5 separate regions of the Homo sapiens genome follow, and regions 2, 3, 4 and 5 are each linked to region 1. The links come from fine-mapping of genetic effects on gene expression. A gene starts in region 1. Each other region holds a variant in brackets. All regions are shown on one strand. Distances are from middle to middle.

Region 1 (5,662 bases):
TCTCCCAGGCCGGAGTGCTGTGACACCATCAGAACTCTGTGCAGCCTTGGCTCAAGTCATCATCCTGGCTCAGCCTCCTGAGTAGCTGGGATTACAGGCTTGTGCCACCACACCCTGCTATTACTTTTTTTTTTTTTTTTTTTTTTTTTTTGGTAGAGATGGGGCCTTGTTACGTGGCTCAGGCTGATCTATTAATAGAATTCCTGACCTCAAGCAGTTCTCTTGCTTCAGCCTCCCACATTGCAGGAATTATAGGCATGAGCCTCTGTGCCTGGCCTTTTGGAAATTTTTAACACATCAAAACTTACTAAGTGCTAATTTAAGAATTTATTCCATACTCATTTCATGAGATAGCTGATATATTTGGGTTTATATACATCCTCTGGTTGTGTGTGTGCTTTTCTTTGCCTTACTTATTGTGTGTACTTTATTTTTTGTAATGTTTTCTTTACATTTACATTTTCTTTAAATTTGTAAGATATATACTCTGATTCAGTTAATGTTTAAGCTTTAAAACAGTTATTTAATACATTATAGAGTTAATGTATTTGCTCTCCTCAAGAAATATAAGAAACTTATATGTTAGTTAATTTGCCCATATGAGTTTATATACTATTGAGGATATGCATGGTAATTCCACCATTCTGTTTCCAGAAGTATTAATATTTTATTTTATTTTTTATTTTAATTTTTATTTATTTATTTATTTTGAGATGCAGTCTCACTCTGTTGCCTAGGCTGGAGTGCAGTGGCACAGTCTTGGCTCACTGCAACCTCCGCTTCCCGGGTTCAAGTGATTCTCCTGCCTCAGCCTTCTGAGTAGCTGGGATTACAGGCGCCCACCACCACGCCTGGCTAATTTTTGTATTTTTAGTAGAAACAGGGTTTCACCATGTTGGACAGGCTGGTCTCGAACTCCTGAGCTCGTGATCCGCCTGCCTTGGCCTCCCAAAGTGCTGAGATTACAGGCGTGAGCCACCGCGCCCAACAGTATTAATATTTTATACAGATAATGAGTGGTCTCATTAATCCATAGATGCACTCCTCTCTCAGATCCTCATTTCTTCTATCATCACAGACCATCACCTGGGATCACTTTCCTTCAACCTTAAGAAGGATCTTAAAAGTGTTATTTTATGCCAGTTATTTTTATCCATTAAATTTCTCATTTTGGGCTTCAAATAGTCTTATTTCAGTTTTTCTTAGCCAGTGCATTTGTCGTGCATAGAAATCTGCTGGCAGTTATATCTGTAACTGACTCCGTATGTTATTCCATGTGTTCCTGACACCTAAATTTATATTGGCTTTGAGTGGAGACAGATAATTTATATTATACATATATATAATTATGTATGTGTGTATATAAACTACATGTGTATATATATATAAATGCTGTGTGTATGTGTGTATATATATTTTTTCTCAAAGATATGAATTATTTCTATGTCATCTCATAAAATAAACCAGGTTATAAAATTTTAACTACAGTGACTCTTAAGTGGACAGTGGAGTTAAAAATTATGAAGAGCAATTAGTCTTGATAGTTCTGTGTTTTGAATCATACAGCCTATAAGAATGTGTCTTCTGGACGATAGACCTACCTGTAGTTTATGAAACCCTCTTGCATGTGATTTTTTTCAATTAAATGAGTCTATTGATATATTGGTGTGCTTTTGTGCAAAAATTATAACCATTAGGGGCTCCCACCTGTAATCCCAGCACTTTGGAAGACTGAGGCAGTTGGATCACCTGAGGTCAGGAGTTCGAGACCAGCCTGACCAACACGGAGAAACCCCATCTCTACTAAAAATACAAAATTAGCCGGGCATGGTGGCGGATGCTTGTAATCCCAGCTACTCGGGAGGCCGAGGCAGGAGAATCGCTTGAACCTGGGAGGGAGAGGTTGCAGTGAGCTGAGATCGTGCCATTGCACTTAAGCCTGGGCAACAAGAGTGAAACTCTGTCTCAAAAAAAAATTATAACTATTATCTATGATGCTATTTGATGAGTGAGGGAATAATTGTACTTTTTTCTTTTTTTTTCAAAATCACACTGATCCTGAAAAGGTGGATCTTTGATTTATCTTCCTAAAGCAGTGTATGTGAGAACCTTGTGTTGAGGAAGACTGATAACAGCTTGTATGTATTTAGCACGATGTGCCAGGCCTGGTGTTAAGTACTTTTTACCTCACTTCCCATATTCCTAATGAGGTTGGTTGTAGTGTTTTTCATCTTACTGATTTTTTTTTGTTTGTTTTTGTTTTGTTTTGTTTTTGGCTAATGACTTTAAAAGACCTCCAGTTCTTGAACTTCAGCTAGGGTCCCATCCCCAGAGTTTATCAGAAGGTATAGGTTGGGTCCAAGAATTCACAGGTTTTTTAAGTTCATAGTGAAGCTGATGCTGTAAAACTACATATCAAATTGGGAAGCAATGAATTAGAAGAGGCTCATGTTTTCGTCATGTTACATGTAAGTTCCTCCTTCACTTTTCGCCATGAATAAAAGTTCCCTGTGGCCTCACCAGAAGCAGATACGGGCACCATGCTTCCTGTACAGCCAGCAGAAAGGTAGCTAATTACATCTCTTTTCTTTATATGTTAGAAAAATTAGAAGGACATTCAATGTTTTACAAAAAGGCCCACAAACGAAATACAGACAACGTTCAATTTATTAATACGTTTCAATCCCCAAATCTGAGAGAGGTGAAGCAGGTTTCCCAGGGCCTCAGAAGCAGGATTGAAGAATGGGTCCCTTGCTGGCGACTTCAGTGGCGTGGCATTGTCCCAGGTGGCCATGGAAATCAGGGTGCATACCCTTTAAAAGCAGCTGTGGCCTCCGAGATATCGTTTTCCCAGTCTTTTCTCCCCCTCCCTGCACGACGCCTCTTGGCAGACATCCGGGAGAACCCGAAAGGCGCTCGTTGCCTGGTTGGATGCAGGGTACAAACTACGTTACCCAGAAATCTGTGCCCAGCTCATTGTTAGCCGGCGTGCAGCCAATGACAGCCCAGAAACTGGGCGTTTCCTGCTGCTCTGGGCTGCAGGGGCGAGACTTCTGGCGTCGCCGTCGTGACGTATTTTTCCTATGCCCGGTCCGTGCATTCTGGTTGTGAAGGCTGAGTTCTAGAGATCGGGTCGGCTTTCTACGCGGCTCTCGTGGAACCTAGCAAAGAAAGACAGTGAAGACTGCAGGACCTTCCTTCGCGCTTTTGTTACAATCCATGACCCCTGTCGTGGGACGGGCGGCCTCTCGCGGAGGTGTCTGCCGGGGCTGGGCTCTTACCGAGGCCTCCACACACGTCCTCTTGTCCTTGTCTCCCCCAGAAGCAGCCGCCTTAGTCTTGTGAGCGTTTTTACACCGGGTAGATTGAGACTTGGAGTGCTACACTCAGCCCGAGGGCGTCCAGCGCGGTGGAGGCGTGGGGTTTCGGCTGAGCCCACAGGGCACAGACTGTTCATCCGCTTCTCATGGCAGCGGCGGTGCTGATGGACCGGGTTCAGGTGAGTGGGGGCATCCCTCAAGCGCACCCCGGCCTGGTTGGTGTGTCCTGGGATGTTCGCTCTCATCGCGCACTTCAGGGTGCTCACTCCGTCGCATTATGTGGAGGGGTTCCGCTCCCCTCATCAGTGGCATAAGGTGTGGAACGGACTCGAAGGCGCAGGGGCAGTTCGTACAAATGCATGCATGGAGAGGAGAATGAGTTTGGGGAGTTCCGGGAACTCTCTGTGCCTGGTGAGAACAGGGACTAGGGGGTCAGAGGTAGGCCTGGAATGGCCGCCCGAGGAGCTGGTCCTCTCTTCTGAGGGTGCTGGGAGTCATGCAAGGTTTGGTACAGAGAAGGGAGGTCCTCTGACGCAGTTCTTAAAAGGCTCCCTCTGGCTGCAGAGTGGGTAGACTAGGGATTATAGGGTAGACGGGGAGATCAAGATGAAGTCTACTGAAATAGTCCAGGTGAGCGTTGATGGTCTGGGCCAGAGTGGTGGCAGCAGAGGTTAGAGAATGTATGGGTTTTGGGTTTTGTATGTATTTTATAAGGAAGGCTGACCAGATTCTCTGATGAGACATAGTGATGATATCCTGGGATTCTTCACATGACTGTCTTCACTTGAGACAGGGGGCAGTGAATGGAGGTCATTTCTAGTTTAGTGTCCTGAATCCAGGCCATGAGTTGTATGGAGTTATGTGGAGAAGTCCCCACCTGGCGACCAATGGGATGAGTACTGCAAAAGTATATCAGACCTAGGAACAGGTACGCTCAAATGCTTGTAGGATTGAGTTTGGAGCGCTCAGGGAATCTCAGGTCTTAATTACCTTTGTTGGAAACAGGTATCAGAGGAAGGAGTTAGGCAGGAATGGCTGGCCGAGGTGTCTTGAGTGTGGTAAAAGTCGTGGGAGATTTGGAGCAGAGGAGGGAGATGATCTGACTCAGATTTTAACATGCTCTCTCTGGCTTTCAGGTTGAGAACAGACTGTGAGCATGAGGGAGCAGCTACTGCAGTAGTGTTGATGGTGTCTGGTCTAGAGGTGTGGCTGTGGAGGTGAGAGAAGTTGGTAAATTTTCTGTTTTTTAAAGTAGGGTGATTGGATTTTTTGATGCGAAAGGTGAAAGAGAGGAGAGTCGTGGATGACCCTAAGGTTGGTTTGTTTTTGCTGTAGCTGGTAAAATTATGAAAATGCCATCAACTGAGATAGAGAAGTTGGCAGCAGGTATGATTTTTAGTGGTTATATCAGGAGTTAGGCTTTGGTCATGTTTAGGTTAAGAGGTCTCAGTTGTCATCTTAGTTGAGGCCTCAGGAAAACACACAGGTTTTTAGTTCTGGGGAAGGGTTCTGTTGAAGAAGTTGAAAAAAATGGTGGCCAGTGTGTGGAGTGGGATGGGGTATCTTCAAATCATGGTGGTAATGCTGTTATTCAGTAAGAAAGTTGAAACTGGACACTGAGAGAAAACTGGGTCTGTTGCTTAGGCACCTGGACGGCAGTGGTGGATAGTGTGAAGACGCGAGCGCTTCCTGGACACTGCTTGCAGAGTGGCATGGGGGATGAGGGATGTCATGGAGGTGCATATGGCATGGGCCAGTGGCGGTGGGGATCTCAGATGTGAGGAAGGTGTAGTCCAAAGAGTAATGAGCACGTTGGGAGGAGTGTGAACTGATGCCCTTAAGACTCTAGTATTGGCAGCTCATGGGAGAAGATGGAGCTGAAGTTTGGTTGTGTTTAGAGGCATCGTCTGGACAACACCAGGAGAACTGGTTGGTAGGCGAGTATTTGGGACCCTTCATGCCAGACCCAGAGTTGAGACAGCATCTGTCTGCACACTTGCCTGGTTCTGCTCTGGGCTGGACACAGTGGTGAGAGGGACATGAGGAGAGAGCAGACACTAGTGGTGCCAAGGTCTGTTATCTCCTCTTAGTTGGGAGGCTGGGGAGGCGAGGGACTAGAGAGTGGGTGTGTGAGTGTGTAGACTGGGGAGGAGGGGGTTCTGGGGAGAGATGCTGACTGTGGACTCAGCTGTACTTATCATGGCAGAGTTGTGTGACCTTCGAGGATGTGTTCGTGTACTTCTCTCGGGAGGAGTGGGAACTCCTTGAGGAGGCACAGAGATTCCTGTACCGTGATGTGATGCTGGAGAACTTTGCACTTGTGGCTACACTAGGTAAGTCTG
Region 2 (6,264 bases), 670 kb after region 1:
AATGCAGTTGCAGCTGCACGCAGTGGCTCATGCCTGTAAACCCAACACTGGGAGGCTGAGGTGGATCACAAGCCCAGGAGTTGCAGGCCAGCCTGGGCAACACAGGGAGAGTTTTGTTTTGTTTTGTTTTGTTTTGTTTTAAAAAAGGCCAGGCGCAGTGTCTCACGCCTGTAATTCCAGCACTTTGGGAGGCTGAGGCGGGTGGATCACCTGAGGTCAGGAGTTTGAGACCAGACTGGGCAACATAGTGAAACCCCATCTCTACTAAAAATACAAAAATTAGCCGGTCATGGCGGCGGGCACCTGTGGTCCCAGCTACTTGGGAGGCTGAGACAGGAGAATTGCTTGAACCCAGGGGGCAGAGGTTGCAGTGAGCCGAGATCGCACCACCGCACTCCAGCCTGGGCGACAAGAGTCAGACTTCGTCTCAAAAAAATTCAAAAAGGAAAAAAAAAATTGAGTCTCTAATCCTTTAAATGTGCTTGAATTAAAAGGAAAGAAAAGAAAGTCTACATATAGAAACTTCTAGTTCAGAAGCATTTTATGTAAGAATCCAAGTGGGAAGTAATCAAGGTGAATTCTTGGAAAAAAATCAGCCTGGCTTGATACTTTGGGGTTAAAAGCACCTAGAATAGCTATGCGGTTATTTGCAGAGGTTCTATAGAAATCAACTCTCCTTTTTATCAGGATAGGACTGGACTAAATTGATCGTACGATCAAGCCCATACCTGAAGTGTCACACCTCAGAATAAACTCCCCAATACATGACAACCCACCCTGAAGGAGTAAGGGGTGAAGGGGTGAGCTTTCTTTGTGGCCCCAACATTCACACCGCCCCAGGAAAACCCTTCCAACCTGTTCTGTGATTTACAGGGCCCCCTGCTTCACAGGTAGGAAGGCAGGCCTCTCCCCCAGCAGGCCAGCAAACTTTGCAAATTTAAGGCGTTCAAGGGCAGAGGAATCCTGTAAACCCAAATTTACAGGTTTCTCAGTGGAACATGAATCTATTAAATTGGACTCGTCATACAATGCTGGTGGGAATGTAAAATGGTGCGCTGCTTTGGAAAACACTCCAGCAGCTCCTCAGATAGTTAATCATAGCATGAACATTTGGCCCAGAAATTCTACCCATACAACCAAGAGAATTGAAAACACACTGAACATACACACAAAAACGGATACATAAATGTTCATAGCAGCCCTATTCACAGTAGGCCCAAAATGGAAACAGTTCAAATATACATCAACTAATAAATGGATACACACGACATGCTCTATTCATACAACGGATTTTTAAGACAGGGTCTTGCACTGTTGCCCAAGCTGGATTATAGTGGTACGATTATAGCTCACTGCACCCTTGACCCACCCCCCCCGCCCCCCGACTCAAGTGATTCTCCTGCCTCAGCCTTCTGAGTACCCAGGACTACAGCTGCATGCCACTAATTTTTTTTTTTTTTTCCTGTAGAAATGGAGTCTCCCTATGTTGCCCAGGCTGGTCTTGACCTCTTGACATCAAGCAATCCTCCCACCTTGGCCTCCCACAGGGCCACTATACCCAGCCTATGATGGAAAATTAATCAATAGAAGGGAACGACGCTCTGACACAGGCTGCAACGTGGATGAACCTTGAAAATATATTTAGTGAGAAAAGCCAGTCACAAAGGACCACACAGCGTATGATTCCGTTTATAGGAAGTATCCAGAAAAAGCAAATCTGTACAGACAAAACATACATTAGTGGTTGCCGGCAGGTGGAGCTGATGGAAACTGCTGGCTAAAGGGGTTGGGGTTTCCTTGTGGGGTGATGAAAATGTTCTCAAATTGGCTGTGGGGATGGCTACACAACTCGAACATACCAAAAGCCATGAGTGAGTTACGCGGTATGTGGATTATATCTCAGGCCGGAGGACTGCTTGAGCCTAGCAAATCGAGGCTGCAGTGAGCCGTGATCATGCCACTGCACTCCAGCCTGAGCGACAGAGACCCCATCACTAAAAAAATTAAAATGCCCCAGCACAGTGGCTCACACCTGTGATCCCAGCACTTCGTGGGGCCGAGGTGGGCAGATCACCTAAGGACAGAAGTTCCAGACCATCCTGGCCAACGTGGGGAAACACCGTCTCTACTAAAAATACAAAAATTAGCCGGGAGGTGGTAGGGGGCGCCTGGAAACCCAGCTACTCGGGAGGCTGAGGCAGGAGAATCGCTTGAACCCGGGAGGCGGAGATTGCAGTGAGCTGAGATCGTGCCACTGCACTCCACCCTGGGAAACAGCAAGACTCCATCTCAATACACCCACATACATACATAAAATAAACAGAAAAAAAAAGTTGCCTCTAGACATAGCTACTATTATGGGAATGACACCCGAGGGCCTGAGAGTCAGGAGGCCCCAGCGGGGCGGGGCCGTGTGGAGGCTGGCGGCACAAGCCCTATGGCCTGGACTCAAAACCCAGCTTCAGCGCCCCAGTGCTGGGTGAGCTGCAACGTGTCACTGCTAGTTCCCTCAATCTCAGTGTCCTGGTGAATGCAGCAGCGATCACCATTCTCTTACAGAGAGGTCATGGTGAGGGGGAGGATGGCGTCAGGCTGTAGGGCATTGGCGGGGAGCCAGGACCCTCCGTGGTAGGGCCTCAGCGTCACCCCCATTGTGGCCAATACCACAGCAAATATTAGGGGAGGGTAC[G/A]GCTCTGAGTACTTACCTGGAGAAACCTGTAGAGTCCCAGGAGCCTGGCCATTGGCATAGACAACGCCAAGCATGTTTCTCCAAAGCAGCTCCGAGAGCGCTGGGCCCAGACGTGTAGCTGGGGATGGGCTCCTCCTGCCCGGTGAGAAAGCTCATGGTCTCATGGAGTGCTGCGTGCACGAAGTCCCCCTGTGTCCAGAATTGGTTCCTTCCAGTGGGTTCTTGGTGTAGCTGACTTCAACAATGAAGCTGCGGACCCTCACGGCGAGTGTTACTACAGTTCTTATCTGGAGTTGTTCATTCCTCCCGTTGGATTCGTGGTCTTGCTGGCTTCAGAAGTGAAGCCACAGACCTTCGCAGTTAGTATAACAGCTCATAAAGGTAGTATAGACCCACAGAAAGAGCATCAGCAGGATTTATCGCAAACAGCAAAACAACAAACTTCCACAAACTGGAAGGAAAGCCCAACAGACTGCCACCGCCGGCTCGGGTGGCCTGCTTTTATTCCCTTATCTGGCCCCACCCACATCCTGCTGATTGGTCCATTTTACAGAGCACTGATTGGTCCGTTTTACAGAGAGCTGATTGGTCCGTTTTGATTGAGTGCTGATTGGTGCGTTTACAAACCTTTAGCTAGACACAGAGTGCTGATTGGTGCACTTACAATCCTTTAGCTAGACAGAAAAGTTCTCCAAGTCACCACCCTACCTGGAAGCCCAACCGGTTTCACCTCTCACCCAGAGTTCCGGATGGAGAAGCCCAGCCTGAGGCTGGGGAGCAGGTGGGCGTCCCTGTTGATCTCCTCCATGGCAAATGTGAATCCTTGGGCTTCCCAGTAGCCCCAGGTGGAAACGCTGAGGGAAGGAGAAGCCCAGGCTTACCGCATGCTGTAGCTGCAGAGGCTATGGCTTATGCACACTCAAAGGGGATGAGGCCACAAGTCTCCACAAGCGCTTGTGCACGATGTAGCCTATACATCAGACTTGACATAACTACATCTTAGCAAAAGACTCCATTTTATATTTCATAGGACACTCTGCCATCAAGGATAGGATGTTCTGTTTATTAAACAACAAAAAAAAAAGACTGCACCTAACCAGGTAAGGACACAAGCACACTCTTCCACTGCCAGTTCTCACCAGGGGACTACTAGGTGACTATAAAAGATTAGGCCTTCTCGGGCACGGTGGCTCATGCCTGTAATCCCAGCACTTTGGGAGGTCAAGGCAGGAGGATCACTTGAGGTCAGGAGTTCAAAATCAGCCTGGCCAATGTAGTGAAACCCCATCTCTAATAAAAATACAAAAAAATTAGCCGGGCATGGTGGTGTGCACCTGTAATCCCAGCTACTCGGGAGGCTGAGGCAGGAGAATCACAAGAACCCGGGAGGCAGAGGTTGCAGTGAGCCGAGATCGTGCCATTGCACACCAGCCCGGGTGACAGAGCAAAACTCTTGTCTTAAAAAATAATAATAAAAGAAAAAGAAAATTAGGCCTTCAGGAGCTCAAAATGGCTGTTTTAACTGACACTGTTTTGCAGTCACTCATGATAACTCAGCCTCTGTGGCCAAAGGCTCTGCCACCTCAAAGACTTCCTTGCAGGATGGCAGACCACCGACCTCACAGACCACCCACCCACCGCCTGGCCCAGACCAGGATGCCTTTTGTCTTCTTCGCTGCCTCTGAACTGGTTCCTTAACTCTTTCTCCTATCTCTTTTTTCTCTTGATGTTAAATGTCACTTTGTTGGTTGTGGAATGTTTAACCTATAACATTTCTATATTAAGTATACTATTATGTATGGTTTGCAATATTAACTGCTTGTGGAGTGGCTTGAGCCTCCGTGCCTGTGGCTCTGACTACCAAGTGAATGAGAAGCACAAGGGATAATTGGCTCCTTGGGAACTCCATGTAGCTCATGGCTTTTGTGATTGAAATAACATCAGTAGGCCGGGTGCGGTGGCTCACGCCTGTAATCCCAGCACTTTAGGAGGCCAAGACGGGCGGATCACCTGAGGTCAGGAGTTCGAGACAAGCCTGGCCAACATGGTGAAACCCCGTCTCTACTAAAAATTCAAAAATTAGCTGAGCATGGTGGAGGGTACCTGTAATCCCAGCTACTCAGAAGGCTGAGGCAAGAGAATCGCTTGAACCTGGGAGGTGGAGGTTGCAGTGAGCAAAGATCACACCATCGCACTCCAGCCTGGGGGCAAGAGCGAGACTTTGTCTCAAAAAAAGGAAAAGAAAAGAAAAGAAATAACATCAGTAAACACTTGACATTGCGGAAAGACACGAACGTGTGGACCTGGTTATCTCTGACCTTGCACTGATCATGACATGTGCATAGCAAAATGGGCAGAACAGCCAAAAAGGGGTGGGGGGCGGGGGGTAGGACATGTTGGTCAAAGGGCTCCAAGTTTCAGTTAGACAAGGAGGAATAGGTTTCCAGATCTATTGCACAGCATGGAAACTGTAGTTATCAATAATTAATGTATATTTCAAAACTGCAAAAAGATCATATCTTAAATGTTCACATTGCAAAAAATGATAAGGATGTGAGGATATGGATATGTTGATTAGCCCAATTTAATCATTCCATAATGTATACATATATCAAGACATCATATTGTACCCCATAAATATATACAATTATTATTCATTGATTAGAAAAAATAACCTGGCAACATCAAGTGATGGCAAGTGGAGTGATTGGAAGTCTTGTGTATGTCTGGTGAGAATGCAGAATGAAATGGTTGCTTTGGAAAACATTGTGGCAATGTTTAAATAAAGGTAAACAGGCCAGCCATGGTGGCTCTAGCCTGTAGTCCCAGCACTTTGGGAGGCTGAGGCGGGAGGATTGTTTGAACCCAGGAGTTAGAAACCAGCCTAGGTCACAACGTGAGACTCTGTCTCTATAGAAAATGAAAAGTAAATAAAAAATTAAAAAATTAGCCGAGTCTGGTCTCATGCATCTGTGGTGCCAGCTACTCAGAAGCTGAGGTGGGAGGATCACTTGAGCTGGGAGGTCAAGGCTGTAGTGAGCTATGATTGAGCCACTGCACTCCAGCCTGGGCAGCAGAGCCAGACCCTGTCTCCAAAAATAAAATAAAGTAAAATGATAAACATATTCATTTTTTAAAAAAGAAAAAAATCACCGGAGGGACTATGTGAAGAACTGTCCGCAGAGACAGTTTGGGAACCTGGGACAGAAATGGGTGATGGCACACACAGGTAAAGAGAAATTCCCTGGGCTGATCAACTCATGAAGAGATTTGTTCATTCCACAAACACTTGTTCATTCAACAAACACACTTACCTGTGCCTGGCGCTGCTCTAAGCGCCAAGGGTTGGCGGTGGACAAGAGAGGGGAGAATCTCTGCCTCACCTGTGCAGTCGCTGCAGCACAATGAGGAGACAAGCAACCCATGCTTCAGACACAGACAGAAAGCAAGAAGGAAAAACGGAGTGAGGTGCTAAGGCAGGGCCGGTGAGACAGGCTGACCAGCATCCAGACAGACAGGATGAGTCCCGGCCATCCAGGAGGGATTCTGAGAATCAGCTGCTGCCTGAGGCTTTA
Region 3 (6,264 bases), 94 kb after region 1:
ACAGAATAAGAAGTTGTTCATAGACTGAAGTGTCATAATTTTGGCAGGATTGTATGGTCTTTGAGGATGTGGCCATATATTTCTCCCAAGAGGAATGGGGGATCCTTAATGATGCTCAGAGACACCTGCACAGCAATGTGATGTTGGAGAACTTTGCGCTTTTGTCATCAGTAGGTAAGGCCTTCATACCTACTCTGGTGTCTTGTGCTGGGTGCTGTTTTTTTGCTCTTTTCCATGACAACTCTGTCTTTCCCACACCAGATTGTGAGTGCTACGTCCTGTCCTCTCCTGGTTTCCTGGCAAATGTGATAAGGCAGCCAGAGCTGGGCTGTGTATACTGTACCACCTCCCCTTAAGCAGCCCCAGCTTCTGTTGCTCTGAAACTTTACAAGATAAGGCTCGGAAGTCAGAAATCTTCAGGTTTCTTTAAGATATCCTAATGGCGGTGCCTGTCCCTGGTTTGATTACTCTGTCCAAATGTGTGAAACCTCTGTCCAAGGGTTTCCCTGTTCCCCTTGCTGACATACTTGGAGACAGTGTCTGTGCTAGGAATTTCAGGCACCTCCCTGGTCACCACTTGTGAGGATTGTGAAGTTATTTCTGCAGGACGCTCTACTGGGTGTTCTGGTAGCTTTAGAATGCAGCATGTCCTGGGTTTATTGCTCTGTGTACATGCTGTCCCCTCCCTTTCCCTGCCTTTCCCGTAGCTGGACTTATGCCGCAGCTAGATAGTTGCTCACCTTGAGCAAGGGGGAGGTCTCTGGGTGCCTGGCAGAGTGGATAGTCCTCTATTAATGGCAAGAGACACTCAGAAGGACTTGGCCCTGGTGGGTGAAAGCTGGGAAAGGATGTGATATCAAGGCTGGGTTCAAATCACATTGAGAACTTACCTTGTGACCACTATTGTTTGATGCAGGGCCACTGGCCACTCGTCACTCTTCCTTTCCTTCCCTGTTGTTATTTTTACTCTGACTTCTGACCCCTGGCTTCCACCTCTGACCCCTCCTCTCCAGCCTTCATCTCTCCACCATTCTCTTCCACCTCTCCCTTTGCAGTGCTGTCTAATGTATGACCTGTACTTTAGGTGTTATGAGGTCTGCGTGTATCCTTCAGTAGTCCATGAATACTCGCTCTCACACAATCAGATCTCTCTGGATCTGGACACAACCGTCATGGCCTGTTGAAAGCCATTTATAGAGGAGTGAGTTGGAGACCCCACCTGCCCTCCCTGCATGGTACTTCTCCCTTGTGTCCTTACCACCAGGATTCCCCCACTACACACACTTCACAGGCCCACCTCTGAACACTGGGCCTTCCTCTCACTGGCCTTATTTCCTTGCCTGTGACCAGTCCTGTGCCCTCATTTGTGGGTGTGTCTCACAGACATTTGTGATGGGGCTGTCTCCTCCCTCCGGAGTTCACGTGCACTTCACCAGCATTTCTGTTCTTACAGGTTGTTGGCATGGAGCCAAGGATGAGGAGGTACCTTCCAAGCAGTGTGTTTCTGTAAGAGTGTTACAGGTCACAATTCCAAAGCCAGCTTTGTCCACCCTGAAGGCCCAGCCCTGCAAGATGTGTAGCTCAATTCTGAAGGACATTCTGCACCTGGCTGAGCACGATGGAACACACCCTGAGCAAGGGCTGTACACATGTGCAGCAGAGCATGACCTGCACCAAAAGGAGCAGATTAGAGAGAAGCTCACCAGAAGTGATGAGTGGAGGCCTTCATTTGTGAACCACAGTGCTCACGTGGGAGAGAGGAACTTCACATGCACGCAGGGTGGCAAGGATTTTACTGCCAGCTCAGACCTTCTCCAGCAACAGGTCTTAAACAGTGGGTGGAAGCTGTACAGGGATACCCAGGATGGGGAAGCCTTTCAAGGTGAACAGAATGATTTCAACTCCAGCCAAGGTGGGAAAGACTTTTGCCACCAACATGGGCTGTTTGAGCACCAAAAAACCCATAATGGGGAGAGGCCTTATGAGTTCAGTGAATGTGGGGAATTGTTTAGGTACAACTCCAACCTTATTAAATATCAGCAAAATCATGCTGGAGAAAGGCCTTATGAGGGCACTGAATATGGAAAGACCTTTATTAGAAAGTCCAACCTAGTTCAGCACCAGAAAATTCACAGTGAAGGCTTTCTTTCAAAAAGGTCTGACCCCATTGAACATCAGGAGATTCTCAGTAGACCAACACCTTATGAATGCACCCAGTGTGGGAAGGCCTTTCTTACACAGGCTCATCTGGTTGGTCACCAGAAAACCCATACTGGAGAACAGCCCTATGAATGCAACAAGTGTGGGAAGTTTTTTATGTATAACTCCAAACTCATCAGACATCAGAAAGTTCACACTGGGGAGAGGCGTTACGAGTGCAGTGAATGTGGGAAATTGTTTATGGACAGCTTCACACTCGGTAGACATCAGAGAGTTCATACTGGAGAAAGGCCTTTTGAATGCAGCATATGTGGAAAATTCTTTAGTCACCGCTCCACACTCAATATGCACCAGAGAGTTCATGCTGGCAAAAGGCTTTATAAGTGTAGCGAATGTGGGAAAGCCTTTAGCCTCAAACATAATGTTGTTCAGCATCTGAAAATTCATACTGGAGAACGGCCTTATGAGTGCACTGAATGTGAGAAGGCCTTTGTTAGAAAGTCCCACCTAGTTCAGCACCAGAAAATCCACACTGATGCATTTTCAAAAAGGTCTGACCTCATTCAACACAAGAGGATTGACATTAGGCCAAGGCCTTATACATGCAGTGAATGTGGGAAGGCCTTCCTTACACAGGCTCATCTGGTTGGTCACCAGAAAATCCATACTGGAGAACGGCCTTATGAATGCACTCAATGTGCGAAGGCCTTTGTTAGAAAGTCCCACCTAGTTCAGCATGAGAAAATCCACACTGATGCATTTTCAAAAAGGTCTGACCTCATTCAACACAAGAGGATTGACCTCAGGCCAAGGCCTTATGTGTGTAGTGAATGTGGGAAGGCCTTCCTTACACAGGCTCATCTAGATGGTCACCAGAAAATCCAGACTGGAGAACGGCGTTATGAATGCAATGAATGTGGGAAATTCTTTTTGGACAGCTACAAACTTGTTATTCATCAGAGAATTCACACTGGAGAAAAGCCTTATAAATGCAGCAAATGTGGGAAATTCTTTAGATATCGCTGTACACTGAGTAGACATCAGAAAGTTCACACTGGAGAAAGACCTTATGAGTGTAGTGAATGTGGGAAATTTTTTAGAGATAGCTACAAACTCATTATTCATCAGAGAGTTCATACTGGAGAAAAGCCTTATGAATGCAGCAACTGTGGGAAGTTTCTTAGATACCGCTCTACATTCATTAAACATCATAAAGTTTGCACTGGGGAGAAGCCTCATGAGTGCAGTAAATGTAGGGAATTGTTTAGGACTAAATCGAGCCTTATTATACATCAGCAGTCTCACACTGGAGAAAGTCCTTTTAAGTTAAGGGAATGTGGGAAAGACTTCAACAAATGTAATACTGGTCAGCGCCAAAAAACTCACACTGGAGAAAGGTCTTATGAGTGTGGTGAATCCAGCAAAGTGTTTAAATACAACTCCAGCCTCATTAAACATCAGA[T/G]AATTCATACTGGAAAAAGGCCTTAGTGGAGTGAATGCAGGAAAGTCACCAAAACTGTCACCTCATTCAGCACCAAAAGGTTCACATCGGACCAAGAACCTATTAATATATGTAAATCTAATGTTGAAAGAGTTCAGATGGAAATCTGCGAGGATTTCCTGCTGGGAACTACATTAAAAACATTTATGTCCAGGCGTGGTGGCTCACGCCTGTAATCCCAGCACTTTGGGAGGCAGAGGTGGGTGGATCACCTGAGGTCAGGAGTTTGAGACCAGCCGGGCCAACATGGTGAAGCCCCATCTCTACTAAAAATACAAAAATTAGCTGGGCATGGTGGCAGGTGCCTGTAATCCCAGCTATTCAGGGGACTGAGGCAGGGAGCATCACTTGAACCTGGGAGGCGGAGGTTGCAGTGAACTGAGATTGTTCCATTGCACTCCAGCCTGGGTGACAGGGCGAGACTCTGTCTCAAAAAGAAAAAAATTATAATTGTGGCAAATTACAGGTAACTTAAAATCTACCATCTTAACCCATATTTAACTGTACTGTTCAGTAGTGTTAAGTCATTCGCATTGTTGTCAATTAATATCCAGAAGTTTTTTCAACTTAATGAAACTAAAACATTATACCCTTTAAACCAGGGGTCCACAACCCCCAGGCTGCAAACTGGTACCAGTCTGTGGCCTGTTAGGAACCGGGCCAGCATCACTACCTGAGCTTCACCTCCTGTCAGATGAGCAGCATTAGATTCTCATAGCAGCCTGAGCCCTATTGTGAACTGTGCCTGTGAGGGATCTAGGTTGTGTGCTCCTTATGAGAATCTAACTAATACCTGATGATCTGAGGTGGGACAGTTTTATTCTGAAACTGTCTGCCCCCTCCTCTGTCCCTGATGCGTGGAAAAATTGGCTTCCATGAAACCAGTCCCTGGTGCCAAAGAGGTTGGGGACCGCTGCTTTAAACTACTCCTCTTCCTCATTCCCTACGCCAACCAGCCCCTGACAATACTACTGTATGAATTTTACTATAAATATCTCATATGAGGAAACTTAAGTTTTAGTCTTTTGTGACTTATTTTGAGGCTTATTTCCCTAAATGTCTTCAAGGTTTATCCATGTTGTAGCATAGCTTATGATTTTCATCTTTTTTAAAGGCCGAATAAAATCCCATTGTAGTCATGTGTCGCCTAACAAGAGGACTGTGTTCTGAGTAATCATCTTAAGGTGATTTTGTCATTGTGTGAACAAAGAGTGTACTTACACAAACCTGAAGGGCACAGCCTATTACGCACCTAGGCTATATGATATGGTCCATTGCGCCTCAGATATAAACCTTAACAGCATGTTACAGTATTGAATATTGTAGGTAATTGAAACACAATGATAAGTAAATGTGTATCTAAACATATCTAAGTTTCCAAAAGGTACTGTAAAAATGTATGAAAAATGGTAAAAACTTTATAGGGCACTAACATGAACGAAGCTTGCGGGACCCCTCTGGTTGAGTCAGGGAGTGAGTTGTGAGTGAATGTGAAGCTCTAGGACATTACTGTACCCTATTGTAGATGTTATAAACATTGTACACTTAGGCTACTCTAAATTAATTTTTTCTTTAGTAATAAATTAACCTTAGTCTACTGTAACGTTTTTACTTCATGAACTTTTAAAATTTTAAAAAGCTTTTTGACTCTTTTGTAATAATAGCTTAAAACACAAACACATTATACAGCCTGTATAGAAGTACTCCTTTATATTCTATAAACTTTTTCTATTTAATTTTTTAACTTCGTAAAAAATAAGTTAAAAATGAAGACACAGACACACACATTAGTCAAGGCCTACAGAGGGTGAGGATCATTAATATCACTGTCTTTTGCCTCCACATCTTGTCCCACTAGAAGGTTTTCAGGCTCAATAACAGGGAGTTGTTATCTCCTATGATAACAATATTCTGGAATATTTTCTGAAGCCTTGCCTCACACTTTTTTTTTTTTTTTTTTTTTGAGACAGAGTCTCGCACTGTTGCCAGGCTGGAGTGCAGTGGCACAATCTCGGCTCACTGCAACCTCTGCCTCCTGGGTTCAAGTGATTCTCCTGCTTCAGCCTCCCGAGTAGCTAGGATTACAGGTGCCTGCCACCACGCTCAGCTAATTTTTTGTATTTTTAGTAGAGATGGCGTTTCACTATGTTGGCCAGGCTGGTCTCGAACTCCTGACCTCATGATTCGCCCGCCTCAGCCTCCCAGAGTGCTGGGATGACAGGCATGAGCCACCGCGCCTGGCTTTATTTTTTTTTTGAGACAGAGTCTTGCACTGTTGCCTGGGCTGGTGTGTAGTGGTGTGATCTTGGCTCACTGCAACCTCCGCCTCCCGGGTACAAGCGATTCTCCTGCCTCAGCCTCCCGAGTAGCTAGGATTACAGGTGCCCACCAGCATGCCCGGCTAATTTTTTGTATTTTTAGTAGAGATGGGGTTTCACTATGTTGGCCAGGCTGGTCTCCAACTCCTGACCTCATGATCCGCCCATCTCGGCCTCCCAAAGTGCTGGGATTACAGGCATGAGCCACAGCGCCCGGCCTGTGCTCTTTATATGACTGGCAGACCAGTAGGTTTGTTTACACCAGTGTCACCACACACACTTGAG
Region 4 (6,264 bases), 250 kb before region 1:
CCTGCGAGGTGGAGGTTGCAGTGAGCCGTGATCGCACCACTGCACTCCAGCCTGGATGACAGAGTGAGACGCTGTCTCAAAAAAAAAAAAAGCCATATTGATAAAATTATACCAAGATATATTTAAATACAGAATTAACTGTGTATCTATACTTTATATACATGTATGAATATATTTGAACATTAAATTATAATTATGAACATAAATTTGCATCATATATTCTACTTATGTCTCCCTGGGCACATGTCTGTATGTGTATCTGTGGACACACGTCCATGAAGAAATTGGATGGGATGAACTCGGGAGTAAGTTAACTCTGTCTGCGTCCTGTGCACCTGATGCAGCAATAAATACTCCATCAAAGGCATTGCATTTCCCAAAAGCCCGTGAGGCAGGCGTGATTCTAGTGTCCATTTTACAGAGAAGAGTACTGAGGTGTGGAGAGACTAAGTCGGCCAGCAGTGAACACCCTCAGCCACTGCTCGGACAGCTCTCGCTCACCTCCCTGCATCTCCGGCTCCAGACGCCATGGTCTCCATCACTCTCCCTCACTCGGGATCTCATGCCGGCTCCCGGCTTGGATCACAGACGCTGATGGCTCAAAAACGTGTGTCTGGGTTAGAGAATCCACCTGTCTCCCTTAGCTCTGCACTGGGGTTGCCCAATTTAATAAATAAAAATACAAATTGCCTGGTTAAATATGGATTTCAGATAAACAATAAAAAAGAATCAACTTTTATTTTAGAATCGACTTAGATTTGGCGAAAAGTTGCAAAGAGAATAGAAAGTTTTCCTTGTTCCTGCACCCAGCTTCCCCTGTTAGTAGCGTCTTACACGAGTATGATTTATCTCAATATTAGTGAACTGGCCAGGCACGGTGGCTAACACCTGTAATACCAGCACTTTTGGAGGCTGAGGCAGGTGGATCACTTGAGGTCAGGAGTTCGAGACCAGCCTGGCCAACATGGTGAAACCCCATCTCTACTAAAAAATACAAAAATTAGCCAGGCGTGGTGGTGAGCACCTGTAGTCACAGCTACTCAGGAGACTGAGGCATGATAATTGCTTGAACCCAAGAGGCAGAGGTTGCAGTGAGCCAAGATTTTGCCACTGCACTCCAGACTCGGCAACGAGTGAGACCCTGACTCTAAAAAACCGTAAAAATAAAAATAAATAAATAATTGCCAAGTGTGGTGGCTCATGCCTATCTATAATCCCAGCATTTTGGGAGGCAGAGGTGAGCAGATCACTTGAGCCCAGGAGTTCAAGACCAGCCTGGGCATCATGGCAAAAACCCTTCTCTACAAAAAATACAAAAATTAGCTGGGTGTGGTGGTGCAGGCCTGTAGTCCCAGCTACTCGGGAGGCTGAGGCAGGAGGATTGCTCAAGCTGGGGAGGCTGCAGTGAGCCAAGACAGCGCCACTGTACTCCAGCCTGAGCCACAGAGTGAGACCCTGTCTCAATAGAAAAACAAATACATAATAAATACATAAAACGCCCATGGCAGGGACACACACGCTGGTTTGGGTTGGAGCCAGCCCGTAAACCCAAATTTGGGGGCCCGGGCTCTCGGCTGCTGCAGCACTGACTACCGTTAAGGTACAATAAAACTGACACATGGGCAGTGAGGGGAATTTGCTCTCCTGCCTCCCTCCCTAAGTTCATCTGCTGAGAAAAATGCTTTGAGATAAACCTGGAGCCACAGCTCTCTGCACAGTCAGATCGCAGGAACGCGGCCTAGCTGCTTCAGCCACGTTCTCGCGGCGCCACCTGGTGGCCATGGACCGCCATCGCCGCTGGACGTCAGGGCCGCCAGGCCCAGCGAGATGTCACCTCCTCTGAGGAGCCTTCCAGGATCGCACCCGGCACGCGCTCCACGCCTCGTTGTCTGTTCTTCGGAGCACCGACCATGATCACAAATCAGCTCGCTCGCTGTGTTTCCTGCCGGGTCGCTACCGCCATGATCCGCACGTAGTGGTCAAGGCTGAGGTTGTATGAATGTGGACGTTATAACCCTGGCTCCCTCTCCCTCCCTATGCTGGGCTCCCCTCGATCCCCAGGCGGTGGGGTGCCCCTGGTTTTTCCTTTTTAAAATTATAAGTCTGGCCGGACGCGGTGGCTCAGGACCGTAATCCCAGCACTTTGGGAAGTCGAGGGAGGGTGTATCACTTGAGGCCAGGAGTTCAAGACCAGCCTGGCCAACATGGTGAAACACCATCTCTACTAAAAATACAAAAATTTGCCGGGCATGGTGGTGTGCGCCTGTAACCCCAGCTACTTGGGAGGCTGAGGCAGGAGAATCGCTTGAACCTGGGAAGCAGAGGTTGCAGTGAGCCGAGATCTCCAGCCTGGGTGGCAGAGTGAGCCTTCGTCTCAAAAAATAAAAAATAAAAAAAAGGTTAAATCAATTTAAATGTCAATGTCCACAGGAGCTACAGATGGTACCAATAGCTCCCAGCTGGGGCTCGTGTATCATTGGTCAGGGCTTCATCAGGATTGGCTACTGCCCCACCCTTGTTAAACATTTTTAATATCTTCCTTGTCTACCAGGGTCAGGCACCTCAGGTAGATGAATGAAGGATGGGGGGGATGGGGGAGGGAGATGGAAGAGGGAAGGGAAGCAGAGGGAGGAGGAGTGAGTGGGCAGCCCTGATCGGAGGTCCCTCCCCATCCCATCTAAAGGGGCTCCCTGGCCGGGCGCAGTGGCTCACACCTGCCATCCCAGCACTTTGGGAGGCTGAGGCGGGTGGATCACCTGAGGTCAGGAGTTCAAGACCATCCTGGCCAACATGGTGAAACCCCGTCTCTACTAAAAATACAAAAAGTAGCCGGGTGTAGTGGTTCATGCCTGTAATCCCAGCTACTCTGGAGGCTGAGGCTGGAGAGTCGCTTGAACCTGGGAGGCGGAGGTTGCGGTGAGCCAAGATCGCCCCACTGCACTCCAGCCTGGGCGACAGAGCGAGATTCCGTCTCAAAAAAATAAAAAATTAATAAAATAAAAATAAATAAATAAATAAATAAAGGGGCTCCCTGCTCTTCTGCTCCAACCTGTGGCTGCCGCATAGGAACATGGGTCACAAAACCCAGAAATCTGGATTCCTTTAAGTGAAATCTTCCAAATTTTATGTTTAAGAAGGTCATGTATTTATTCCTTCCTAAAGACCATGCTGACCAAATCAAATGAGTCTGTGGATAAGTGTGTCCAGGCTTCAGACTACTCCCTTTTGGAGCCTGTGGTGTAAAGGGAACAGCTTAAAGTCCCTC[G/C]CCCCAGTCAACAGGGGAATTTAATGTCTTGGGTTCCCTGGCAGAACTTTTCTGTTTTTTTTTTTTTTCTCTTTATCTAACACTTCCATGTGTCTTACTGAAAGCCAGCTGCAGAGTTAGAGCAGCGTTTGGCAGAATCAAATATGGACTAGCGCTTGCTTCTGTACGGCCCTCAGGTTAAGCATGGATTTTATATGTTCAAATTGTTGAAAATAAATCAGGCCAGGCACAGTGGCTCACACCTGTAATCCTAACTCTTTGGGAGGTCGAGGCAGGAGAATCGTTTGAGCCCAGGAGTTCAAGACCAGCCTAGGCAACATAGTGAGACCCCCCACATCTCTACAAAAAGTTAAAAAATTGGCCGGGTGCGGTGGCTTAGGCGTGTAATCCCAGCACTTTGGGAGGCCGGGGTGGGCGGATCACCTGAGGTCAGGAGTTCAAGACCAGCCTGGCCAACATGATGAAACCCCGTCTCTACTAAAAATACAAAAGTTAGCTGGGCGTGGTGGTGAATGCCTATAATCCCAGCTACTTTCGGGAGGCTGAGGCAGGAGAATAGCTTGAACTCGGGAGGCAGAGTTTGCAGTGAGCCAAGATGGCGCCATTGCACTCCAGCCCGGGCAACAAGAGCAAAACTATGTCTTAAAAAAAAAAAAAGTTAAAAAATTAACTGGGTGTGTTGGCACTTACCTATGGTCCCAGCTACTCAGGAAGCTGAGGTGAGAGGGTCATTTAAGCCCAGGAGATCAAGGCTTCAGTGAGCTATGGTTGCACCACTGCATTCCAGCCTGGGTGACAGAACAAGACCCTTTCTTTATTCAAAAAAGAGAGAAAAGAAAAAAGAGAGAGAAAGAGAACAGAAAAAAGAAGAGAAACAAAGAAAAGAAAATGATATTTCATAATATGTGCAAATTATATGAAATTCAAATCTTGGCTTCCATAAACAAAGCTGTGTTGGCCCATGGTCACGCCTTCATTGACATCACCTGGTGGCAGCTTTGTGTTACATCAGCAGAGTTAAGTAGACTGTGTGGCCTGCAAAGCCTCAAATACTTGCTGTTCTGGGCCAGGCGCGGTGGCTCACACCTGTAATCCCAGCACTTTGGGAGGCCAAGGTGGGCGGATCACCCGAGGTCAGGGGTTCGAGACCAGCCCAGCCAACATGCTGAAACCCTGTCTCTACTAAAAATACAAAAAAAAAAATTAGCTGGGTATGCTGGCAGGTGCCTATAATCCCAGCTACTCAGGAGGCTGAGGCAAGAGAATCACTTGAACCTGGGAGGTGGAGGTTGCAGTGAGCCGAGATCACACCACTGCACTCCAGTCTGGGCAACAGAGCGAGACTCCATCTAAAAAAGAACAAAAAAAATTGCTATTCTGGCCCTTTCCTGGGGGCATTTAGAGAAAATATTTACCCACCCTTCTAGGTACTTTGCGTGCATTAACTTATTTCATCCTCACAGAGCATCTATGATGAAGGCGCTGCTATTATCCCATTTCAAAGGTGAGAAAAGTGAGTACGAAAGGTGAAGTCCATGGAGACACAGCTGTGTGAGGCAGAGCCAGGATTTAGGCTCAGGAAGCCTGAACCTAGATTCTAGGGTGTTAACTGCTACATGAGGCTGCCTCTCTTTCTAAGCATTTTCACTTGTGTTTCTCTCCACATGCTATGTTCTACCATAAATTGGCTTCCTTGAATGGGAGGGCCACACTGAATCCCACTGTCTCTACAACTGTGACATCATGTAATGCTGACTCCTTTAGCTTTATTAAACTCAGGTTCTAACCTTAGCCACAGGCTCTCCTTCTGCCAAGCTGTCAGCTAAATCAAACCATGCTCTCTTATCCCCAGCCTGCTCCTGCCTTCATCTCCCTCGTTTTCTTTTTAAAGATTAATTATTTTTAGGCTGGGCACAGTGGCTTACGCCTGCAATCCCAACACTTTGGGAGGCCAAGGCAGGCAGATCACCTGAGGTCAGGAGTTCGAGACCAGCTTGGCCAATGTGGTGAAACCGCATCTCTACTAAAAATACAAAAATTAGCCGGGCATGCGGACAGGTGCCTGTAATCCCAGCTACTCGGGAGGCTGAGGCAAGAGAATCGCTTGAACTGAGGAGGTGGAGGTTGCGGTGAGCCGAATTCATGCCATTGCACTCCAGCGCCTGGGTGACAAGAATGAGACTCCATCTCAAAAAAAAAAAACCTGTCATATTGGATTAGGGTCTACCCTAATGACCTTGTCTTGCCTTAATTACTCGTCTAAAGACCCTATTACCAAATACAGTCACATTTCTAGGTGCTGGGAGTTAAGACTTCAACATGCATTTGGGGGGACAAAATTGAGCCTATAACAAGCTAATTACTTAATGTTTTCTGGGAGATGCCTCAACCTGTCCCAAACGAAGCTTATGACATCTTCCCCTCACCTGCTCACCTTCCAGAGTTGCCCATCTCCACCAATGGCACCATTATCCACCTGGTTACACTGACCAGAAGCCAATGGCGCCCTTCTCATTACCCCTCTCATCGGTCACCACGTCCTGCCGTTTGACGCTGATCAACCTGCTCATTTCCCCCCATCTCCTCTGCCGCCACTGAAAACCAACCCACCACCGTCATCTCCTGCACTGCGGAAAGTTCTAAATATCCCCATCCCGGACCCAAACTGCCTCTCCTCACCCAGGAATCATTTGATGTGGTCAGAGCGAGATTCAAACTCCTCCCAACTCCTGAAACTGTCAAAGCTGGACTTGAATACGGAGCAGAGCCGGCGTCCTGTTGGAGTGCTTGTGAGCTCACCAGTGCTCCCTCCCTCCACCGTCACTCTAAATCAGGACTACCCAGCCTGGCACCCTCAGCATTTGGGGTTGGAGGATTCTTTGCTGTTGGGGGTGGGGGAAGGGGTTCTGTCCTGTGCATTGTAGGATCTTAAGCGGCATCTCTGGTCTCACCAACTAGAGGCCAGGAGCAGCCCCTCACCCAGCTGTGACCATCAAAAA
Region 5 (6,264 bases), 180 kb before region 1:
CTTGTATTTACTTTTTAGCTTTATTGAGGTACAGTTGACAAAAAAGATACATATTTTAAATATACGATTTGAATTTTGATATACACATATAATATGATATGGTTACCATAATCAAATCAAGCTGATTGATGTATTAACCACCTCAAATTATACCCTTTGTGTGTGTGTGTGTGTGCGGTCAGAACACTTTTTAAAAAAAATATCCTTTTCTCCCCCATGCAGAAGAACACTTAAGGTCTATCCTTGTCGCAAAAAATAAAAATCTATCCTCTTAGCAAATGTCAAGTAGTATTGTTTTTTTCATTTCTGATCATCCAATTTAAAATTTTTTTTTCTAATTTGTTAACTATGTCACATAATGTCACAATGTACATGTCAAATAACGTCACTATGTACCTTAAATCCCCAAAACTTATCTTGCAAAACTGAAAATTTGTACTTCTTGACCAACATTTCCCCATTTCCCCTTCACTCAAGCCCCCGGCAACCACCATTTTACTCTCTGCTTCTATTTTTGATCCAACCTCACTGTTTGTGTCCACGCTCCTTAATTTTCTTGGTCATGAGACCACGAGCTTAGATAACACCTTAGACAATGAGACCAGTGACCCTGACCTGTTTCAGTTTAGTTATTTAAAATATTTTTCTTTCTTTTTTAAATTGTATTTATTTATTTATTTGTTTTGAGAGGGTCTTGCTCTGTCGCCCAGGCTGGAATGCAGTGGTGCAACCATGGCTCACTGCAGCCTCCGACTCCTGGGCTCAAGCGATCTTACCCCCTAGGGCTCCAAAAGTGCTCTGACAGTAAATGCATGAGCTACCATGCCCAGCCATCAAATTTTCAATCATTATAAATCTTAGAGCTGGAAATAATATCTCATTGTTTTATTTTTAATTTGAGCGCTAGCGTGCTTGAACACTTTTAATCAAATGTATTTGCCATATTTTATTTTTCTTTTATTAGCTTTCAGATTCTTTGCTTCTTTCTTAGGTAGAACATTTCTTTGAGACTTAAATATTATGCTGCATTTGTCCTATGTCCTGCAAGTGTTTTCTTAATTCAGTATTTTAAAATAATATTTTGTTTTTATGTTTTTTGTATCTTTATAGCATTCTTCTAAATTGGATCTATGTTTATTTTAATTGTCTAGTCAAAGTACTGACAAGGAGGAGTGAACTTCCTGAAAACGGAGAACAAGATGTGATGCCTTTTAGTAAATGTTTACCAAAAGACACAGGATTCCATTTCCAATTCCATATCGAGAACCTTTAAAATTGTACATAAAAATGCAGGTGAAGTCGTGGAGAAGGGAGGCCAACAGTGCACACAGGTAGTGCCTCTGGGGAAGAATCAGAAGTCATCCTGCATCCTAAATTCCTGACCTGACTTTTCTGCAGGGCGAGTATCTGACCTGTGCTACACCATCAGCAACACAAAGAAAACTTGATGAGCTTTTATTTCCTTTTATTTGTATGTTTCACTCCAGTTTTCAATTCCGTGCCCTCAAAAGCCCGGATATCATCACCGGTACCTCTTTTAAGCTTCACCTCTCTGTGCGGCTCCGCAAGTATGTTGGTCTCCCTGAGAGAGTGGGGCCTGCAACCTGCTGGGCGCAGGCGCCTTGAGCTGCCACGTCTGCCCTTTTACCGGCTTGGGTGCAGGCAAGGGAAATGCGTCCCCGGGCCGGGGGGCGCGAGCGGGGGTCCGGGGCCGCGAGCTGGGGTCCGGGGAGCGCGAGCGGGGGTCCGGGGGGCGGGGGCCGCGGGCCGCGAGGGGGGCGGGGGCCGCGAGGGGGCGGGGCGTGCGAGGGGGCGGGGGCGTGCGAGGGGGCGGGGGCGCGCGAGGGGGCGGGGCGCGCGAGGGGGCGGGGCGCGCGAGGGGGCGGGGCGCGCGAGGGGGCGGGGCGCGCGAGGGGGCGGGGCGCGCGAGGGGGCGGGGCGCGCGAGGGGGCGGGGCGCGCGAGGGGGCGGGGCGCGCGAGGGGGCGGGGCGCGCCGGGCTCGTCCTCTCCGCGGCGCTCAGTGGCAGCAGGGAGGGCCGGTGAGATGCCAGAGCAAGGTAGGGTCCTGTATTTGGGGACCGCTGACGTTTGGGTCCCCCTCCCGCGGCTGTTAGCGCTGCGTGGCCCGAGACCTGCGGTCGGGCGGGGATTAAGGCTGCTTTCCGGAGGGCCCCGGCCGCGTGGTCGCCCTGCCAGAGCGGTTGATGTCAGGCAGTGCTGGGAGGCGTTGCTCTCCGGGTTCGCTTCTCTCCTGTTGTCCTAACTCTGCATCTCTCCCGGGTGAATCACAGAGCTGTAAACTAAAAATCAAATTCTAAGCTCCCAGCCAACTGAATGGACCCCTCCTCTCAGCTAAGAGCATGGCAAACTTAACCGGAAACACTAGTTCGGCCGCGATAGGAAGGAGATGGGACATGCCTCATTTTACCCTCCTCTCTTTGAAATTCAGGCACAGGTCGGGCGCGGTGGCTCATGCCTGTAATCCCAGCACTTTCGGAGGCCGAGGTGGGTGGATCACATGAGGTCAGGAGTTCGAGACCAGCCTGGCCAACATGGAGAAACCCCGTCTCTACTAAAAATACAAAAATTAGCCAGGCGTGGTGGCGGGCGCCTGTATCCCAACTACTCAGGAGGCTGAGGCAGGAGAATTGCTTTAACCCGGGAGGTGGAGGTTGCAGTGAGCCGAGATCGCGCCACTGCCACTCCAGCCTCAGCACCAGAGCAAGACTACGCCTCAAAAAAAAAAAAAAAAAAAAAAGGAATTCAGGCACAGCTGACCAGTATTAACATTAAAACAATTTTTTTTTAGTATCTTCATGCTAAAGGGGTAAGTAGAAATTGCATGTAGCCTCCCATCAGTTTATTCCAAATAGCAAACATTTACCAAGCCCTGAGTTATTAACTACGTATTTTCTTTTTGTAAACCTTACAATTGAGCAGGCAAGTAATAACATTATCTCCATATTTTTAATGTGAGGAAACTGAGGCCCAGGAAGACGTGTAATTTGCCCAATATCAGGTATTCAGTATATTGGAGATTTGAAGGACAAGTTATTTATTTTGAAAAATGTATACCTTTTCCAAAGTTCCAACAATAATTCAATGAACACATTTATTTTGCCCCAGAATTGCCAATGATGTTATGTCCTATAAGGAGGCACCTAAGTATACAGTTTGTCCATTTGGGAGATTTGGATTTTGACTACTTGGTTAAGATGGTATCTACTAGATCTCTCCACTCTTTCTTCTTTGTAATTAATAAGTAATCTGTGGGTCAATTCTTTGCAATGTCTGAATAATATTAAGTCCCCCCACTTCAGCCTCTAGTTTTAGCCTCTGTTGATGATTCTTCCCTGAATCTGTGATCACTGCTTGTGGGGATTCTATTTCTATTACTTCTTTACATTTTATACTTATAAGTTGACACTCCTGTAAAGAACTTTACCCATCCC[A/ATTCTTTT]TTCTTTTTTCTTTTCTTTTTTTTTGTTTTTGAGAAAGAGTCTCACTCTTGTCATCCGGGCTGGAGTGCAGTTGCGCGATCTAGGCTCACTGCAGCCTCCGCCTCCCGATTTCAAGTGATTCTCCTGTCTCAGCTTCCCAAGTAGCTGAGACTACAGGCGTGTGCTACCACACCCAGCTAATTTTGTTTTTTTTGGGTTTTTTTTTTGTTTTTGTTTTTGTTTTTTTTTAGTAGAGATGGGGTTTCACCATGTTGGCCAGGCTGGTCTCAAACTACTGACCTCAGGTGATCCACCCCCCTCGGCCTCCCAAAGTGTTGAGATTACAGGCGTGAGCCACCGCGCCCGGCCCACCTCAGGTGATCCACCCCTCTCAGCCTCCCAAAGTGTTGAGATTACAGGCGTGAGCCACCACGCCGGGCCCACCTCAGGTGATCCACCCCCCTCGGCCTCCCAAAGTGTTGAGATTACAGGCGTGAGCCACCGCGCCCGGCCCACCTCAGGTGATCCACCCCTCTCAGCCTCCCAAAGTGCTGAGATTACAGGCGTGAGCCACCGCGCCCGGCCCATCCCATCCCATCCATTTTAAGTTAGTTAATTATTTTAGAAGCCACATGGAGTGGATGATTTTTATCTGCGGCATTATAATCCATTTATCTCATTGTATTGGTGCTCACACTACCCAGCATTAGCCTCTCCAAACTCAAGTAGGCTTGACTTTCTTATTTCTATCACAGAGCTCCTGAAACCCTTGGAATTTCCTGTGTGTTGAAATGTCTTTTGTTATTTTTAATGACTTTTTGATCACATCTCAGTTTATACCAATGAGATGGCTTAGGGTGGAGACCCTAGACAGCCTCAAGATGAAGCTGGTCACCAGAAAGATTAGAGAGTTGGAACTTTCAGTCCTACCCACCAACCTCTGTGAAGTGGAAAGGGTGGGATGGCTTGACATGAAGCTCTATAAAAACTCTTGGACAACAAGATTTTAGCTTTCCAGATTGCTGAACACATTCAGTGTTCCTGGAGAGGGCATGGAAGCTCCACACCTCTTCTCACATACCTTGCCCTGTGTATCTTTTCTGACTGTTTGTTTGTATCCTTTGTGATATCTTTTATTATAAAACAGTAAACATAAGCAAAGTGTTTCCCCGAGTTCTATGAGCCATTCTAGAAATGAGTTCTAGGGGGTTGTGGGAACCCCAATTCTAATGTAGTTGGTCAAAAGCACAGGCCACAACCAGGTGATTGTGACTGGCATCTGAAGTGAAGGGCAATTCTGTGGGACTTAGTCCTCAACCTATGGGATGTGACACTTCCTTCAAGTAGATAGTGTCAGATTTGAATTATAGGACACCTACTGGTGTCTCCTGGAAAACTGGGATGGATGAAAAAACCTCCACTCATTTGGTCACACAAATGTTCTGTTTTGAGTGAGTTGAAAGAAAAGAACAGTTAGTTTTTTTGCTTTAGATGTGGTGTCAGAAATGGGATGTTGAATGATTGTGTAAGAGTGGGAGCACTTGGCAGAGAAGTCAAAGATGGCGGCTGTAGCTGCTGTTCGCTGGCTGGGGCTCTGCAGCAGGCTTGACCAGCCACTGACGGGTCAGCCAGCAGGTCTATGTGAACAAGCACACAGCTGAGATTTTATTCTGGAAGTGCAACCCTCTCAAATATTGAAGGAACTGATATAACAGGGATTGAAGAAGTAGTAATTCCAAAAAAGAAAACTTGGGATAAAGTAGCCGTTCTTCAGGCTCTTGCATCCACAGTAAACAGGGTTCCCACGGCTGTACCTTGCGTGTTTCAAGATAATCCTTACCTCATACCAACATCCTCTTCAGAATCTCGTTCATTTTTACTGGCAAAGAAATCCGGGGAGAATACGGCCAAGTTCATTATTAATTCATACTCCAAATATTTTCAGAAAGACATAGCTGAACCTCATACACTGTGTTTAATGCCTGAGTACTTTGAACCTCAGATCAAAGACATAAGTGAAGCCACTCTCAAGGAATGAATCAAGCTCAGAAAAGTCAAAGTCTCTGTGGACATGTTTGATGAGCTTTTGCAAGCAGGAACCACTGTGTCTCTTGTAACAACATATAGTCTCTTGGATTTATTGTGTTACTATGGTGACCAGGAGCCCTCAACTGATTATCAGTTTCAACAAATTGAACAGTCAGAAGAATTGGAAGAGGAAAATAATAAGAGGTCTAGGAGGAAAGCTGGTGATCAATTTGGAGTTACCTGGTGAGCACAAAACAACGCTGAGAGAATGTTTTCTCTAATGCCAGGGAAAAATGCACATTCCTATTGCACAGTGATCCGAGGAATGGTGAAGCATCAAGCTTATGAGCAGGCATTAAACCTGTACACTGAGTTACTAAACAACAGACTCTGTGCTGATGTATACACATTTAATGCAGTGATTGAAGCAACAGTATTGGTGATAAATGAGAAATTTGAGGAAGAATGGAATAATATACTGGAGCTGCTAAGACAAATGGTTGCACAGAAGGTGAAACCAAATCTACAGACTTTTAATACCATTCTGAAATGTCTCCGAAGATTTTATGTACTTGCAAGATTGCCAGCCTTACAGATTCTATGTGAAATGAAAGCCATCAGACTAGAACCCTCGCTTGCAACATATCACCATATTATTCAGCTGTTTTATCAGCCTGGAAACCCTTCAAAGGGATCATCTTTCATCATCTATGATATAATGAATGAATTAATGGGAAAGAGATTTTCCCCCAAAGGACCTGGATGATGATAAGCTTTTTCAGTCAGCCATGAGAGTATCTTCA

Evidence for each region. PIP is the estimated chance that this variant, and not a neighbour inherited with it, causes the effect.
Region 2: its variant is fine-mapped to the expression of ZNF304 in amygdala (GTEx, PIP 0.93).
Region 3: its variant is fine-mapped to the expression of ZNF304 in whole blood (INTERVAL, PIP 0.95).
Region 4: its variant is fine-mapped to the expression of ZNF304 in cerebellum (GTEx, PIP 0.90).
Region 5: its variant is fine-mapped to the expression of ZNF304 in whole blood (INTERVAL, PIP above 0.99).

Annotation. Positions count from the first base shown.
Region 1 is chr19:57,348,199-57,353,860 of GRCh38, forward strand. ZNF304 (zinc finger protein 304) reads left to right here and starts at 3,073. Exons shown (of 3, transcript NM_020657.4): 1 at 3,073-3,499; 2 at 5,527-5,653. The coding sequence starts at 3,467. RefSeq lists enhancers at 2,249-3,108, 3,066-3,155, 3,109-3,967, 3,306-3,375.
Region 2 is chr19:58,022,424-58,028,687 of GRCh38, forward strand. It overlaps the pseudogene VN2R19P. Among named protein-coding and RNA genes, the nearest start is that of ZSCAN1, 8.5 kb to the right of the region's middle. The variant G/A (reference allele first, on the strand shown) is at 2,690.
Region 3 is chr19:57,441,838-57,448,101 of GRCh38, forward strand. It overlaps ZNF749 (zinc finger protein 749), which reads left to right. Exons shown (of 3, transcript NM_001023561.4): 2 at 48-174; 3 at 1,454-5,264. The coding sequence ends at 3,648. Among named protein-coding and RNA genes, the nearest start is that of ZNF749, 9.6 kb to the left of the region's middle. The variant T/G (reference allele first, on the strand shown) is at 3,623.
Region 4 is chr19:57,097,597-57,103,860 of GRCh38, forward strand. No RefSeq gene overlaps it. Among named protein-coding and RNA genes, the nearest start is that of USP29, 19 kb to the right of the region's middle. The variant G/C (reference allele first, on the strand shown) is at 3,266.
Region 5 is chr19:57,170,239-57,176,502 of GRCh38, forward strand. LOC124904780 (a long non-coding RNA gene) reads left to right here and starts at 2,006. Exons shown (of 2, transcript XR_007067355.1): 1 at 2,006-2,058. It also overlaps the pseudogene LOC100132009. RefSeq lists a silencer at 1,593-1,642 and an enhancer at 1,974-2,033. The variant A/ATTCTTTT (reference allele first, on the strand shown) is at 3,454.